Linked DNA regions of Homo sapiens: all the other regions are reported to be linked to region 2. Evidence: microRNA targets listed by miRTarBase, many of them from high-throughput screens and not tested one by one. Region 2 holds a microRNA gene; each other region holds the end of a gene's coding sequence.
What was found. Region 2 holds the annotated microRNA hsa-miR-892c-3p (CACUGUUUCCUUUCUGAGUGGA, at 1,639-1,660, opposite strand). A microRNA usually pairs through its seed, bases 2 to 8, with sites in the 3' UTR of a target mRNA and lowers its output. Matches are read on the target gene's strand: a 7mer-m8 pairs with bases 2 to 8, a 7mer-A1 pairs with bases 2 to 7 and ends in A, and an 8mer does both.

Region 1: the mRNA of SLC25A37 is a reported target of hsa-miR-892c-3p. Seed matches in the 3' UTR shown: 8mer at 2,942-2,949.
Region 3: the mRNA of UBE2D1 is a reported target of hsa-miR-892c-3p. Seed matches in the 3' UTR shown: 7mer-A1 at 2,801-2,807.
Region 4: the mRNA of TMED2 is a reported target of hsa-miR-892c-3p. Seed matches in the 3' UTR shown: 8mer at 2,025-2,032.

Annotation. Positions count from the first base shown.
Region 1 is chr8:23,571,146-23,575,145 of GRCh38, reverse strand. It overlaps SLC25A37 (solute carrier family 25 member 37), which reads right to left. Exons shown (of 4, transcript NM_016612.4): 4 at 1-3,811. The coding sequence ends at 3,291. Among named protein-coding and RNA genes, the nearest start is that of SLC25A37, 44 kb to the right of the region's middle.
Region 2 is chrX:145,991,122-145,995,380 of GRCh38, forward strand. MIR892C (microRNA 892c) reads right to left here and starts at 1,705; the gene lies at 1,629-1,705. MIR890 (microRNA 890) reads right to left here and starts at 3,230; the gene lies at 3,154-3,230. It overlaps MIR888 (microRNA 888), which reads right to left and starts at 3,739; the gene lies at 3,663-3,739.
Region 3 is chr10:58,368,060-58,372,059 of GRCh38, reverse strand. It overlaps UBE2D1 (ubiquitin conjugating enzyme E2 D1), which reads right to left. Exons shown (of 7, transcript NM_003338.5): 7 at 1,312-3,340. The coding sequence ends at 3,295. Among named protein-coding and RNA genes, the nearest start is that of TFAM, 15 kb to the left of the region's middle.
Region 4 is chr12:123,596,113-123,600,112 of GRCh38, forward strand. TMED2 (transmembrane p24 trafficking protein 2) reads left to right here. Exons shown (of 4, transcript NM_006815.4): 4 at 493-2,470. The coding sequence ends at 617. Among named protein-coding and RNA genes, the nearest start is that of DDX55, 4.0 kb to the right of the region's middle.

The sequences.
Region 1 (4,000 bases), not on the chromosome of region 2:
ACTTTGGAGGAAGGTGCTTGGAATAAGACATGAGCATTTTAAAAGAAAAAAAAATGAAGAAAGCAAACTACACATAGAATGTAACCCAGTAAATAGATTCAATGCAAAGTTAAGAAAACATAGTCATGGGGAGAAGATTTCACCCATTTGGAAAAAATCAGTTTATCGTTCTAAAATAAAGCTTTGATCTACAGGTAGTTGAACCTCAAATCATGGTTTGGACAGAAGAGCTACTCACACACACATCATGTAAAAGTACGAGTGCTGTACTCAGGTGGCACTAACTGGCTGCAGATGTCACTCCAAAGACACCAATGACTGAGTACGTGCAAAGGTTACACTGAATTGGTCACCAGGGTGGGATAGTGGGGTGGGGAGGCCTCTTCCTATTTTGCACTTTGCATTGTCAAAGTCACAATAAGAAACCGGACTGCAGTCTGCGTGGAGCAACAATACCAACTTTGGAGATAAAGGCCAGATGGGAAAGTTAATTTCTACAAAATTAACAAACACTTGTATCTGCTCAGTGCTTCACAACTTTCAAGGCTTTTCTCAACCTCCTGATGACCAGGCATGCAGGCTGGCCAAGTGGCTCCCCAAGCTGACTCATCCCTCATCACACAGGGAGGGGCCTGCAATCAGGGCCCACAGAGCTCCAGGGTCCGGTTTTTGCCTTTCCTTTTTGACAGAGTCACTCTGTCGCCCAGGCTGAAGTGCAGTGGCACAATCTCAGCTCACTGCAACCTCCACCTCCTGGGTTCAAGCAATTCTCCTGCCTCAGCCTCCCAAGTAACTGGGATTACAGGTGCCTGCCACCATGCCCAGCTAATTTTTTGTATTTTTAGTAGAGATGGGGTTTCATCATGTTGGCCAGGCTGGTCTCAAACTGCTGGCCTCAAGTGATCCGCCTGCCTCGGCCTCCCCAAAGTGCTGGGATTACAGGCATGAGCCACCACACGCCACCTTCACCTCTCCTTCTTGCATCCCTCTAACCAAAGGAGTGCTCCTAGAGAAATCAAGTTTATTTTCTAAACACCAGTGAAAGCAAAATCCAGTAGGAAATACCTTGCTTCAGCGTGGCATATCTTAAGTGGACCAAAAGGGGTGGTAGGATAATTTTTTTACAAATTTGCTTTAAATTCTACTTTGAAATTTAGAATTTGATTTTTTTCCCCTCCATTTGCAGAATTTAACACCATTTAACACGAACCCAAGGCAGGTTGAGAGCGGAGATGTAAACATTTTCAACAGTAGCGTGGACTTTACGGCTTTCTACATCCCCATGTGGGTTGAGGCTGCAACTGGTTTTGGGGAGTGGGGGGCAGAGCAGGGAGAAGGCGTTAACTGCCAGATGGGACAGGGCAGCAGCCAAGCCCCACAGCCCAGCTGCAAAGGGCTGTTCACGGGGCACACGTGGGAGGTACCCAGTTTGGCTCTTTCCCATCCCTGATCTGAAAAAGGAACTCCACTGACTGATAAAATTCTTCATCGCTATTAGGGCAAAATCTACTCCCCAAGGCACTGTGTGCATGGTCCCAAGATGGAAATTCTCCACGTGTTACTTCCTAGGCAGTAGCACCACTCAAAAGAATCCAGGCCTGCGCCTCCTCGGTAAGATGCACCACGCTGACCGTGATGGGTGGCGGCAGGTCAGGACCCGGCTCACTGAAATGCAAACATACATGAGCTTCCTGCTCATTTTTAAAGACAAGCTCCGGTGAGGGCTCCAAATCAGAGACAGTGCAGCTCGTCTCGTCGGTATTCCCTTGCACGGCAGCCTGGCAGAGCACCAAATGGCACAGCTAGGGAAAACGGGCTTGTATTTTCTCTGAGCGGCAATCTGACTCGGCACACACCATTTCAGAAAGCGAGGCTGCGAAGCCTGTGTTCTCGGGTGACGCAGAGCAGACAAGGATGCAGAATGGCTTCTGGAGAGGGGTCTTCCGACTCGGGCATGAGGGTCCAGGTCAGACCTCAGCCGCAGGGCCCTAGCAGATAGGCCTGGCTCTTGTCACATGCAGTGAGAAGCTGTGACATGAGAATTAATGGTTGGGACAAGACAGGGACAAAGACTGGAGACATGCTTCCCTAGACTGCACAGGGAAACACAGGAGATGAGATTCAGTCAAAACACACATAGATCACGTTACCTGAAGTGCCTGAGTTAAAAGGCTGATGCAGAAATAAGTCCTAGGATGAAGGTAGGATTTATCCCAAACACCTGCCCCACAAGTCGCCAAATGCTGCCTATCAAGGGCTTCTAAGTGCTGACCGGGGAAGGCAGGCATTCACATCACTCACAACCAGGGAAGGAAGCAGTCTCAGCAGGTTTATGCCCAGTCACCCCAATTCTACTGGGCTCCACCACCCTCCAGCGGGCGAGATCCTGCCACCCAGCATGTGTGCGTGTGTGTACACAGCAAGAGAAAATAGGCCAGGGCCAGATCTCTGGTCCTGGAATTTTGGGGAAAGACAAAGGAAAAAGGCACATGAAGGTGGCTGATTGAATTTAAAAGAAAAAAAAAGGTAGCTGCAAGTGACATATCATTATTTTGATTTTTTTAACGTACCTTTTTTCCCCCATGAAAAGAGAAATTCAAAATATAAACTTTATTATTTTACATTCAAGTGAAACTTCCATCTGGAGGGGCTAAACACAGCTGCCGGCCACATTCACTGATTTATTACTTTGTTGCCTTTTTCGTTCACCTGATGGAAGAATTCAACCCTCTTAAAAACATAACAACAACAAAAACAGCTGGAGAGTCCCAGCCGTAATACTAGGTGTAGACACGCACAAGCACACACACAAATTCAAAAACTTCTACATAGAAAAATAAAGGATAAACATTATCCATCTATTTTGTACTGTGTAATGCAACTTTTATATACATAAATTTTTTTTTTTTTTTTTTTTTTTTTTTTTTTTTTTTTTTTTTTTTACTGTTTTCAGTCACTGCAAATTTTCTTCCCTCCTCTGGGATCTAAGGATCCAGGGAGGAGGCTGCCACAGTGAAGCAGAAAAGCTACATTCTGCCCAGGGAGGAAGAGAAAAAGCAATTTCTCGCTCCCCTTCCCAAGTCCTTCCTGTCCACCACCACCTCGGATGTCCCCGCACACAGCCTTCCGGTGAGCGGCCGTGCCGTCCCCTCCTCTCTCTAAGGCATTGGGGAGCAGAGGGCCCATAGGCAGCACCCTGCAAAAAAAAAATGATCTACGTGTGAGGAGAGGGCAAGGGGCTGGATGCAGGCAGAGAATGACTTTAAGAAAAGATTCTATGATCCCTTCCTTTAGTATGGAGCTCGATTTTCCAGCTGGCGCTTGGTGAGAAAGTACTTGAAGAACTCATAGACAGACCAAGAAATGGCGGTGGAGGGCATCTGGTAGATGACACGCGCCTGGATGCCTTTGAAGTAGCCGGCCAGGCCGTTGAGCTGGTACACCGTCCGGAAGGCATTGGCCATACCCGACAGCCGGCCGCTGATGTTGGCCAGCGAGAGGGCCACGTTCTCCTGAGTGTTCAGAAGGGTCTTACAGACGTCCAGGGGGGTCGTGGCGGCCGCGGCGAGGGCCCCGGCCAGCCCGCCTGAGATGATGTGGGACTGCGGGTTGTAGGTCCGGTGGGGGTTGACCTGCTCCTGCAGGAACTCATAGGTGATGAAGTGGATGGACTGGAAGGGGATGTTCATGGTCAGCTGCGTGGTGTAGCTCCGGTAGAAGGCCCCCAACCCCTCGGTCCTCCACACCGTCCGGATGCAGCTGATTGCTGACCGGTGCTGCGAGTTGTACATCTGCAAGCGCTGCTTCACCACTGTGGTTGGAACCGCGGGGCAGGCCAGACGGACAGCCAGTGGGCAGTGGGTTGGATGTGGCCCCACCCCAGGTCGGAATGAAGCCAAGCCATAAAGAGAAACAAGCCAGTTAGACACCGGAAACAGGCGAGAGCCAGCACACACAGCCCTAGTCTGAGCAGCCGCGGAGGGCCAGCTCCCGGCAGTCC
Region 2 (4,259 bases):
TGCTCTATGTTTATCTGGATGATTTCCAGGACCAGGAGAGAACAAGTTTGTTCCTGATTTCGCTTCTTCTTTTGGGAAATATCTTTATCTTCTGTATCCCGTAGGTGTTCACATTGTAGCAAACGACCATGAAACTTATTTTGAGGATGACTGAGTTCTAGCTAACCACCAAGGATCTCCTGAGATCAATGAGGACATCTCAAGGTGCCTGTAACTCTATACCCTCACCAGTCTGAGGGCCACCACAAACTTGTACTTCGTGACTCTTATTCCACCCAGAGAAAAAACCAATTACATGTAATCTAAGTTACTGGCACTCTATTAGTCAATTGTCATGCTGCTAATAAAGACATACCAAAGACTGGGTAATTTCTATTGAAAAAAGAGGTTTAATTGACTCACAGTTCAGCATGGCTGGGGAAACCTCAGGAAACTTGCAATTACGGTAGAAGGGGAAGCAAACACGTCCTTCTTTACATGGCGGCAGGAATGAGAAGTGTTGAGCAAAGCGGGTGAAAGCCCCTTATAAAACCATCAGATCTTGTGAGAACTCACTATCATGAGATCAGCAGCATGGGAGTAACCGCCCCCATGATTCAATTACCTCCCACTGGGTCCCTCCCATGACACATGGGGATTATGGGAACTATGATTCAAGGTGAGATTTGGGTGGGGACACAGCCAAACCATATCAGACACCTTTCTGGGAATAGCCCTGAACACAGCATGGTCGAAAGGGGAAGTGCTGCCCCATCTTGCATTTTCATACCCTGCAGCTTTCATCACTCCTCTGAGCACGGTATGATGCCTGAATCCTGAACTTATTTATTCATCAGTTCAAAATAATGCCCAGCCCACAAGCCCCCAACTTGCATGTCTCCCTCAGTGCCCTCTCACCTGCTCTATGTTTACCTGGATGATTGCCCAGACCAGGAGAAAACAAGCTTGTTCCCGTTTTCTATTCTTCAACTAGGAAGTATCTTCATCTCTTCTATCACTTTCTTCTTTAACATGATGGAGTCTACATCATTAGGAATGCACCAGTAGAATTATCTTGAGGATGCCTGAGGTCCATGTGGCCAAATAGGATCTCCTGGCATCAGGGAAGGCAGCTCAAGGCCCTTGGAACTCCACATCAGGGGTCTACAGGCAACTATATGCTTGTACTTGGTAAGCCTTAGTCCACTCAGAGAGGAACTAGTTACATATAATCTAAGTGACTGGCACCTTTCTGGAACATATTATGGACGAATGGGGAGGGGCTACTCCATCGTGCAATGTGAATCCCCATCCTAGAGAATGTCCAGCCCACTGCCCTCCATCATGTATGTTTCCCTCAGCAAGAGCACTCTCACTTGGCTTCATGTTTACCCAGATGGTTGCCAGGACCACGAGAGAACAAGCTTGTTTTTCTGTTCTTCTATTAGGAAGTATCTTCACGTCTTCTATCCTTCTCTTCTCTATCATATAGGTATTCTCATTATTAGGAATGAACCACTGAAATCATCTAGAGGATGTCTGAGGTTCAGGTGGCCAGCTAGGATCTCCTGGCATCATTGAAGACAACTTAGGGCTCCAGCAACTCCAACTCATCGCCTGTCTGAAGACCACCACACACTTGTACTTGGTAAGCCCTACTCCACTCAGAAAGGAAACAGTGACATGTAATCTAAGTGACTGGCACCTTTCTGAATAGGGCACTGCCCACAGCACGACTGATAGTGGAGGTGCTGCCCCATCACCCACCATCACGCACTGCAGGTTTCATCACTCCCCTCAACACAGCAGGCTGCCTGAGCCCTGAACACATTTATTAAGTCCTAGAGAAGTTCCAGCCCACTGCCCTCCAACTTGGCATGCCTGCCTCAATGAAGACCTTCTCACTTGATTTATGTTTCCCTGGATGATGGCCAAGACGAGAAGAAAAAAAATCTTGTTCCCGTTCTCTCTTCTTCTTTTAGGAAGTATCTTTATCTCTTCTATTATTACCTTATCTAACCTGTAGGTGCTCACATTGTTAGAAATGGATCATTAAAATCATCTTGAGGATCCCTGAGTTCCAGGTGGCTTCCAAATCTCTCCTGGGATCAATGAAGGCAGTTGAAGGTGCTTGCAGGTCTGTCTCCTCACCAATCTGAACGCCATCACAAAATTGTACCTGGAGAATCTTGCTCTACCCAGAAAGGAGCTGGAAACATCTAATCTAAGTGACTGACCCCTTTTGGAGTAGGGCACTGCCCACAACATGGCTAATTGTGGGGGTGCTGTCCCATCTTGCATGTTCTCCCCCTGTAGCTTCCATCACTCCTGAGCACAGCATGATGCCTGAACCCTGAATTTATTTATTCAACAGTCCTGGATCATGTCTAACCCACTGCCCTCCAATGTACATGCCTCCCTAAATGAGGAACCCCTCACCTGCTCTATGTTTACCTGGGTGATCGCCAAGACCAGGAGAAAGCAAGATTGTTCTCATTCTATTTTTCTAGTAGGAATTATCTTCATCTTGTCTTTCTCATCTATAACCTGCATGTGTTCATGTTGTTAGGGACAGACGATTTAGAATATCTCGACGATGCCTGAGGTCCACATGGCCAACTAAGGTCTCCTGGTATCAGGAAAGGTACCTCAAGGCTCTTGAAACTCCACCCTATCATGGGTCCAAAGGCCACTACAAACTTATACTTGTTGAGCCTTACACTACCAAGGAAGAAACCAGTGATGTATAATCTAGGAAACTGGCACATTTCTAAGTAGGACACTGCACACAGCATGTCTGATAGCGGAGGTGCTGGCCCATCTTGCAAGGTCAACCCCCGTCCAGGAGAATGTCCAGTCTGCTGCCCTCCATGACGCATGTCTCACTCAATGAGACATGCTCACTGCTCCATATTTGCCCAGATGGTTGCCAGGACCATGAGAGAACAAGCTCGTTTTCTGTTCTTCTATTAGGAAGTATCTTCATTTCTTCTATCTTTCTATTCTCTGAAAAATAGGTATTTCCATTGTTAGAAATGCATCATTGAAATCACCTTGAGAACACCTAAGGTTCAGGTGGCCAGCTAGGATCTCCCGGCCTTACTGAAGACAACTAAAGCCTCCAGCAACTCCACTGCATCACCTGTCCGAAGGTCACCATGAACTTGTACTTGGTAAGACTTACTCTACTCAGAAAGGGAATAGTTACATGTAATCTAAGCAACTGATGCCTTTCCAAGTAGGGCACTTCCCACAGCATGTCTGATTGTAGAGGTGCTGCCCCATCATCCACCATCGTGCACTGCAGCTTTCATCACCCCACTCAACACAGCAGGATGCCTGAACCCTGAACTTAATCTTAATTCCTAGAGAATTTCCAGCCCACTGCCCTCCAACTTGGCATGCCTGCCTCAGTGACGACCTTCTTATCTGATTTATGTTCACCTGGATGATGGCCAAGACAAGAAAAGATTGTTCCTGTTTTCTCCTTTTAGGAAGTAACTATCTTTTCTGTCATTGCCTTCTCTAATTTGTAGGTGCTCACGTTGTTAGAAATGATCATCTTGACGATGCCTGAATTCCAGGTGGTTTCCAAGGTTCTCCTGGGATCAATGAAGGCAGCTCAAGTTGCTTGCAGGTCTACCCCCTCACCAGTCTGAGGACCACCACAAAAGTGTACTTGGTGAGCCTTCCTTCACCCAAAGAGGTGTCAGTCACATGTAATCTAAGTGACTGACAGCTTTTTGAGTAGAGCACTGCCCACAACATGGCTAATTGTGGAGGTGCTGTCGCATCTTGCGTGTTCTCCACCTGTAGCTTCCATCACTCCTCTGAGCACAGCATGATGTCTGAACCCTGAACTTATTTATTCATCAGTCCTGGATCATGTCTAGCCCACTGCCCTCCAAGGTATATGCCTCCCTAAGTGAGGAATCTCTCACCTACTCTATGTTTATCTGGATGATTGCCAGGACCAGAAGAGAGCAAGATTGTTCCCATTTTCTATTTTTCTAGTAGGAATTATCTTCATCTTGCCTTTCTGATCTATAACCTGTAGGTGCTCATGTTGTTAGGGACAAGCCACTTAACTTATCTTGAGGATGCCTGAGGTCCACATGGCCAACTAAGATCTGCTGGTCTCAGGGAAGGTACCTGAAGGCTCTTGCAACTCTACACTATCATGGGTCCAAAGGCCACTACAAACTTATACTTGGTGTGCCTTACTCTACCTGGAAAGGAACTAGTGACATATAATCTGGGCGACTGACACATTTCTGGGC
Region 3 (4,000 bases), not on the chromosome of region 2:
GACACATTACTCAGTTCAAAAACAGAGAGAGTAGAAATGACTAGTTATCTACCTATAAGAACTTTTGTAAGTGAAATTAGATGAGACTCTACCTGCTGCCCTATTTGTGCAACACAACCATCAGAATAAAAGAGAAGCATTATAAGACCTTTCATAAATAATCTGCATTACATTTTACAGCTATTAAATTGTGATTAAGCCTCTGCTTTAAAGAAAAAAAAATTGTGAAAATCCTACTTTACAGCTGAAAAGTGATAAAACTAATTTTTTAAAAATCAGATTTTTTATTGTAGTAATAATCACTTAAAAGACTGAAACAAACAAAGATAAACAGTACTTTCAACAATCTGAATACAATGAAGCTCTGTTTTTATGGCCATGGCTAAAGCACTGATCACATTTTTCATGGCTGGTCCTAAGAAGATAGAGTAACAGGACTGATGATTCTACTGCAGAGCTCAAATTTTAAAGCATTATCAACTGGGCTGGGCTTTTGTACAGTTCAAAATGACTACCAATAAACAGACATGATATAGTTTCATGACCAATAATTTCTTTTAATTTGGGAGGAAAATTAATTTCCTTAATCTCTCCATTTAAAAAATACAGAACTGTGGGAGAGCAGGATCTTGACAAACATCAATGACTGAATCATTAGATAGATCACTGTGATAAATAAGAAAAATTTAAAACTGCAATGTATTATTTTTTTCTTATGAAAAGTAACTTTTGAACGTTAACTCTTAGAGTTGTCCTTGATATGCAGTTCATTTATAATTTTTAATTTTCCCTATCAGCGTTTAAAAGGGGTGAAACAGGGAAATAATGCAAAAATTAATAAATAAGGTTGACGGAGGCATATATGTAAAGCTTGTACTTCAGGAATTGTACGCTTTTGAGATAGTTGGAGGATGGTGGTGAGGCTGCCCCTTACAACCCATGTCACTGATGTGGGTAACTGCTGTATATGGCAGTTATAAGCGTTCAGAATCCAATTTGAACATGGTTTTCAACTATGCAACTTCAAGAAGTGGGATCCTAAATCCCCAAAAGACTACCTATTTCTCTCACTCCAAGGAAGTCCTTAAATTAATGCTTAATCCACAAAAGGCCCTGACTTTTATTCTACAGTTTTAAAAGGTAACTGATGTTCTCCTTGTTAGAGTTAAGCAAAAATAATATACCCAAAATGGTGTTCTGACCGATCATGACGCCACTATGGAACTCAAGGTTTTTAGCTAATTATGAGAACTTCTGCTTACTCCTCAAGTCCAGTACAATCCAGATGTAAGCAAAGGCAAACAAGTTAGGCAAGTTTCAAAAACTTTAATAAAGAAAAAAAAGAAGACACTTCCAAAAATAAATGCCACACAAATGAAAGTTGTTTTTTTTTTTTGTTTAAAGTGAAGATATTCAAGAAACAAAACCCTTTACTATCAAAATATACTAAATATTTAAATCTAGTGATGTTGAGTGTTCAAATTCAGGGCAAATGTAGCTTATAATAATATAGCTAAGTAGAATTTTTCATGATATGGCTGTTTTAAGACATCATTTTATAGATTTACTTTTTAAGCCTATATTTTCTTAAACATCCATTTCACAATTCATTTAATTATTTTACATTCATTTATAAAAACACATATTTTCTAACAATAGGTTATTTTGTGCTTTAATAATAATGAACCATGACAAAATACTCAAGTGATTTAAATGCTTTGCTAATGACTACACCCATCACATATTCTTACATACTTCTACAGCTACTGCAATAATCAGAAGGGCTACAACTGTTCTTAAAAATGACACTCACTCAAGGTTGACAAGCATGCTAAACATTAAAGAGATGTATTTTTCCCCAAGTTAAAACATTAAAACTTTCTAGTTTTCTTTAAAATCTATAAAGATAACCTGCTTATTTAAATCACTTTTCGATGGCAACTTATAAAAACAGAGGGAGGCATAATTTTAGAACTTCCTTTGTAACTTCTATAGTAAAAAAAAAAAAAAAGTTTTTCAAATTGTGATGGCATTAAATTCCATTTTAGAAATTCTAGATTTTAAAATGTTAAGAAATGTAATGTCAATTACATCAGGGTGGGGGCATTTTAATGAATTAATCTAGTGACTGTGCAGGTCTATAAAGACCTTTCTTTTGGATGGGTGATACTGCCTTATACTCATTTCAGTACTTTTAACAAATAATCCATTTAGATATAATCCAAGACAAACCCCAAATTACTCTAAATTCTCCTCTACAGCAAGGGATCAACATATATTATCTTATAGACTGACAATTTAGTAAAGAGATACTAACCTAAAACAATAAAATTTATATAACTAATGGTGACTAATGGCAAACAAAATAGATCTGATTTTCACAATTTGGATGTAATTTTCATGCAAAATTTTAGAGTTTTGATCCTTACTTATATTTTTATTTTTTTAAGTAATCAAGACAAATAGTAGAAAAAGCATTTTATTTATATGGAAAAAGCTACAGTAAGATCTGTAAAAGGTGTCAATATAATATTGCCTATACAGGAAAAAATTCAAATGTGAATAGCAACAAATAAAAGTTACACATCTTCCTACTTAGCAGTGCAATTAATTCACATTGCAATAAAGTTAAGTCAAGTATAACAAAATCAAAACAAGTGTTTCTCCATAATCAGTATGCTGAGAATTACAGTGTAAAGATCATTTCAGATTTAAGAAATCTGCAATCAATCTACAGAATATCCTAAGACAAGGGAGACACAGTTAATTCACTTAATTATCAGCCGTTGGGGTTTTTCAATACTGTTCACAGGAAAAAAGTAATGAGTTGACATACATGTAAATAGAATATATTTAGTCTATACAGTAAAAAAATACAAATTATAAAGTGAGCTAACAAAGAATGAAATCTGAATACAGATTTATAAAACTGACATCTTAGACAACACATACAGTATTTCTCATGTAAAAACATCTAGTTTCAGCAAAAAATAATTTGGTTGCTTTTCAGCTGCATTGTAGATCTTGTAAGCTGAAGATGCAGATGTCCAAGTATCTTAAAAACCATAATAAATGTCTTTCTCAATGCATACAAAATGATAAATGCTCTCATCACAGTCTTAAGGGTATTTTTGGAAGTTTGTTTTGTCTTGCTTCAGAAACACATTTAAAATGGGTAAAAATCAAATGGTTTCATGGTACAATGAAACAGTAAACAGTGCTCAATTTACTGCTAATGTTGAAAAAAACCTAGATTTTACAGTACTCTGGTATATATGAAAATGTTTTTGATTTTTACATTGCATATTTCTGAGTCCATTCTCTTGCATGTCTGTTGTATCTGTAGATACACAAAAAGGATATAGTAAAAACATACAAAATTAATATTTCAGAAGCATCTGTCTAATAAAACTATATATTCTACCTTCTTATACTTAATTGCAATAATCACACATATATCAATTACTGGGTCAATGTGACTTAGGTTCATGCAGAAATAAAACAGGAAAAATAATTTTTTAACTCATGGATTTCTCTGCAACCTATATGAAAATGTATCCAAATACACAAAAATCAAAATGCAGAAACCAGCTTCTAACAGAAATTTACAAAAGCCAATCCTGAAGGAGCATTATCTACAAATTGCAAATGAACCTACAGTACTAGCAAGATGAAGCAGCTTGAGAATTAGGTCAGTTTGGATGGGTACGAGAGAACTCCTCTTCCTTGGAGAAGATAAGCAATATATATTTAATACTTTCCAATGATTAAATTCTTTCATTTTTAATTTATCACCTAGAATATATACATCTATTTTTCAAATACAGAGTATATACTATTGAACAGTAAGTGGGAAGGAACAAGATTTATCATAAAAGGTCTAACAGAGTTCTCAAAGAAAGGTTTACTCCATTGGAAAAAGATAAACAATATACATATAACAACCATAATCAAATTGACTTAAAACATATTGATAATATTCGTGTTTTGGCATACTATA
Region 4 (4,000 bases), not on the chromosome of region 2:
TTTCAGCTTTATGATGGTGCAAAAGTGATGTGCATTCAGAAGAAACTGAGCATCAAGTACCCATGCAACCATTCTGTTTTTTACTTTCAGTGCAGTGTTCACTAACTTGATAAATAAAATAGAAAATAATAATAAAATGCAGTTTAACGTGTATGAGATACACAACACTTTATTATAAAATAATCTTTGTGTTGTTAGATGCTTTTGCTCAACTGTAGGCTAATGTAAGTGTTCTGATCGTGTTTTACGTAGGCTAGGCTAAGCTATGATGTTTGCTAGGTTAGGTGTATTAAATATATTTTTGACTTATGTATTTTCAACATAAGCTGGGTTTATTGGGATGTAACCCCATCGTAAGTTGAGGAACATCTATTCTATGAGTGGTGTACACAATATTACTTTCACACAGAGTGAAGACTAAAATATTTATGATGCCTATGTCTTTTTGGGGGAGAATTGTTAAATTTTGTTTGTTTGTTTTGTCCTCAACAGTCAACGACAACACAAACAGCAGAGTGGTCCTTTGGTCCTTCTTTGAAGCTCTTGTTCTAGTTGCCATGACATTGGGACAGATCTACTACCTGAAGAGATTTTTTGAAGTCCGGAGAGTTGTTTAAAAAGCCTCTTCCTGATGATCCCAACTCAGAATTCACTGTTTACCAAACACCTTGGTCATAATAATGTCATTAGTTTCTCCATTTTTATTTTCTGAACTGTACATTCACAACTTATGTTTCTTTGAGATTAATAGATATTGGGGGAAAAACGCCTTTTTAGGAAAATTATAGTGAAAATTTGACAGTTGATTGGCATAATTTCTTGTTTGAATGCTGCCTCCATTATATAGGTCCTTCCAGGAACTCAAACACTGTAAGTGAAATATGGGAGTATAGTTTTTATTATTTCTTCTTTTCCTTTTGTTTTCATAATATAATGCAGTTTGTTCAGGAAATCAGCACAAAGCCTGATAGTACTTTACTAAAATGACTGCATTCTTTGGATTCCTTCAGTCTATGGTTCAAGTCACTAAAGATTCATTTTTGTTGAGTCCTTATGAGAAACAGCAGTATGAATCTTGACGGTTTCTGCCCGTCCTAATGGCAGAGCTCTCTGACTTGGGTGTATGCTGCCAGGCTGGGTACTTTCATACTTTGTTTTCTTGTTTTGCTTTAAAACTACGACTCAGCATACATTTTCCCACATACATTTTTACATTGTACCTTAGGACTCAGTCATCTCCACTTAAATTGATGACACAAGCAGCTAATAACCATTTCTGGGTTTCTGCCTAACCCCCTAATTGTCTGTTAAAGCCAATTCTCTGGGTGTCCCAGTGAGTGGTGGCTTTTTTTCTTTCCACATTGGCACATTCACTTCTCCCACTCTTGGCATGTAAGAAATAAGCATTTACATAATTGGAAAAATCTGGATTTCTGATGCCAAAGGGTTAAAGCTTCTTGGATTTCATTTCATTGATATACAGCCACTATTTTATTTTTGATCAGTGGCCTTTGGGCCACTGTTCAGGGTACTGACCATCAGTGTCAGCATTAGGGTTTTGGTTTTTGTTTCTTTTGGGTCTTTCTTTTTTGGCACATGTGAATCTTGTTTTGTGTAAAATGAAATTACTTTCTCTTGTTCTCTGATGATGGGTTTAAAATTAAAAGAGCATCCGGTTTTGGTATGGGGATGATCCAGGATTATGTTGTGACTGATACATATTAGTTACTTGTGCTTTTTTTTTTTTTTTTGGATCTTTGCAAGGGCAAAACTACAAGTAACGAGTTTTATATAATTAATTTAAATTTGTTACAGGTTTTCATGTTCAGGATAAACCATACTTCCACCTTGGGTGAGAACACTTGCAACAGTTTATTAATGAGGTGACTTTCACCTTAGGACAACTGTTGCATGCCAAGTTTTTTGTGTGTGTGAAACACTTCAAAACTGATTTAAAAGATGTAAATTTAAAATTGGTTGTATCTAATATGCCCCAGGTTCGGTAAATAAACAATTCTTTTTAAAAACAGTATTCTGTGTTTTATATATTGACAGCTAATCCACATTTTTTACACACCAACTTTCTGTTCTTATTTGACATGAGACATGTTCATGTTTTCTGAGTATTTATACCTATTACGTCTGTTACTTTTTAATTCTATAAACTTGAGGATAGTGAATGGTACCAAGTTTTAGTTTCTGCGTAGGTTTTCCAGTGTGGCTTCTCTGATGGATCAGTGCTAAAATCTTAAGTATTTTTCTATTTGGGAAAAAAGGGTTGAATTATTTTCACTTGCCCACGTAGTTTATGAATGTGGGAAATAGCTTCAAAGACAGATTAAATGATTTGCCCAAGGCCACAGAAAAGAGTGAAAGGTGGAACCGGAGACTAGATCACCACCTGTAGAAACTGTTCTTCCTCTGTGAAACTAACGGCCTGCTGGTAATAAAAGTAGCTACCATTTCTTGAGTACTGTGTAATGTCTCGATCTAGTACTAAGCACTTTACTTGGTCTGTCTTATTCATGCTTCAAAACTGCCATTACCTTGGGTAAAACCATTTTGGAAGTGAGGAGGAAAACAGGCTTGGAAAGGGTCTTAAGGTCAGAAAACTAGTAGGTAGTAGAGCCCAGAAGACACACACAGATATGTAATTTCCCTGTGCCTTTGCTTTCAGAACTGTCTGTGAAGTCTCCCACCTTTTCTTTTTTTGGAGACAGGATCTCACTCTGTTCCCAGGTTGGCTTGATCTCTGCTCACTGAAGCCTCAACCTCCCGGGCTCAAGTGATCCTACCACCTCAGCTCTCCAAGTAGCTGGGACTACATTTTTTGTTTTTTAAAGACAGGGTCTTGCTTTGTTACCTGGACTGGAGTGCAGTGGCACAAACATGGCTCACTGGAGCCTTAACCTCTCAAGTGATCCTCTCATCTCAGCCTCCCGAGTAGCTGGGACCACAGGCATGCACCACCACGCCTAGCTAATTAAAAAATTATTTTTGTAGAGGCAGAGTCTCCTGTATGTTGCCCAGGCTGGCCTCATTCTCCTGGGCTCAAGTGATCCTCCTGCCTCAGCCTCCCAAAGTGTTGGGATTGCAGACATGAGCCACCGTGCCTAGCCGAAGTCCCATTTTATAAAAGTTGTCAAAGGTGTTTTGAGAATGTGATGATCATTTCACTGAAAATGTGGCTTCAGGCTGTTGTCTTTTACTTAATTTGAGATGACTGCAGTCTGCATGAGTTGTATTCCCATTTATCAATCCCACAAATATTTGAGTGATTGCTGTGTGCTACAGTGATAGTCCTTGGGATAAAGAAGATAGAGAAAAGACCCTATTAGTGTGGGTTTTACATTTTGGTGGCAGAGATGAACCTAATAAGTTTTGTGTGTGTGTGTGTGTGTTTGTGTGTGTGTGGCGAGAAAGAGATAATGGTAAATGCTAAGAAGGGAACATAAATCAAGGTAGGAGTTTCAGTGATACAGAAAGGAAGGTAACAGAAGTTGATTTCAAAAGTCCAAGTGGAATGTAAGGGAGTGTAAGGGAAAACTTCCCCTTTGCTCTCAGGTTTCTCTAAAAATTCAACTGAAAATAGGCAGATTAATAGGAGGAAAGTGATACAAATTTATTCGGTCATGCTTTTACATGACAAAGGAACCTTCAGAATTAAGACCCAAAGTTACAGGGAAAACTATTTTTATGCTTAGGCTCAACAAAATATGCACAGCTGAGTAGAAATAGGACTGGACAAGAAGGGCATGATCTAATGCTCATAGACTGAGTGGGGAAGCCCAGCGAGGCCTGTCTGGATTCTTTCCTTCTGGATAGGGGAAAGAACCCTTCCTGGAATGGGGTCTTACAACCTACCAGCAAAACAAAGGAGGTCAGATACATTTTTTTTTTTTTTGGAGACAGTCTCTCTCTGTCACCCAGGGTGGAGTGCGGTGGCGCGATCTTGGCTCACTGCAGCCTCCGCCTCCCGGGTTCAAGCAATTCTCCTGCC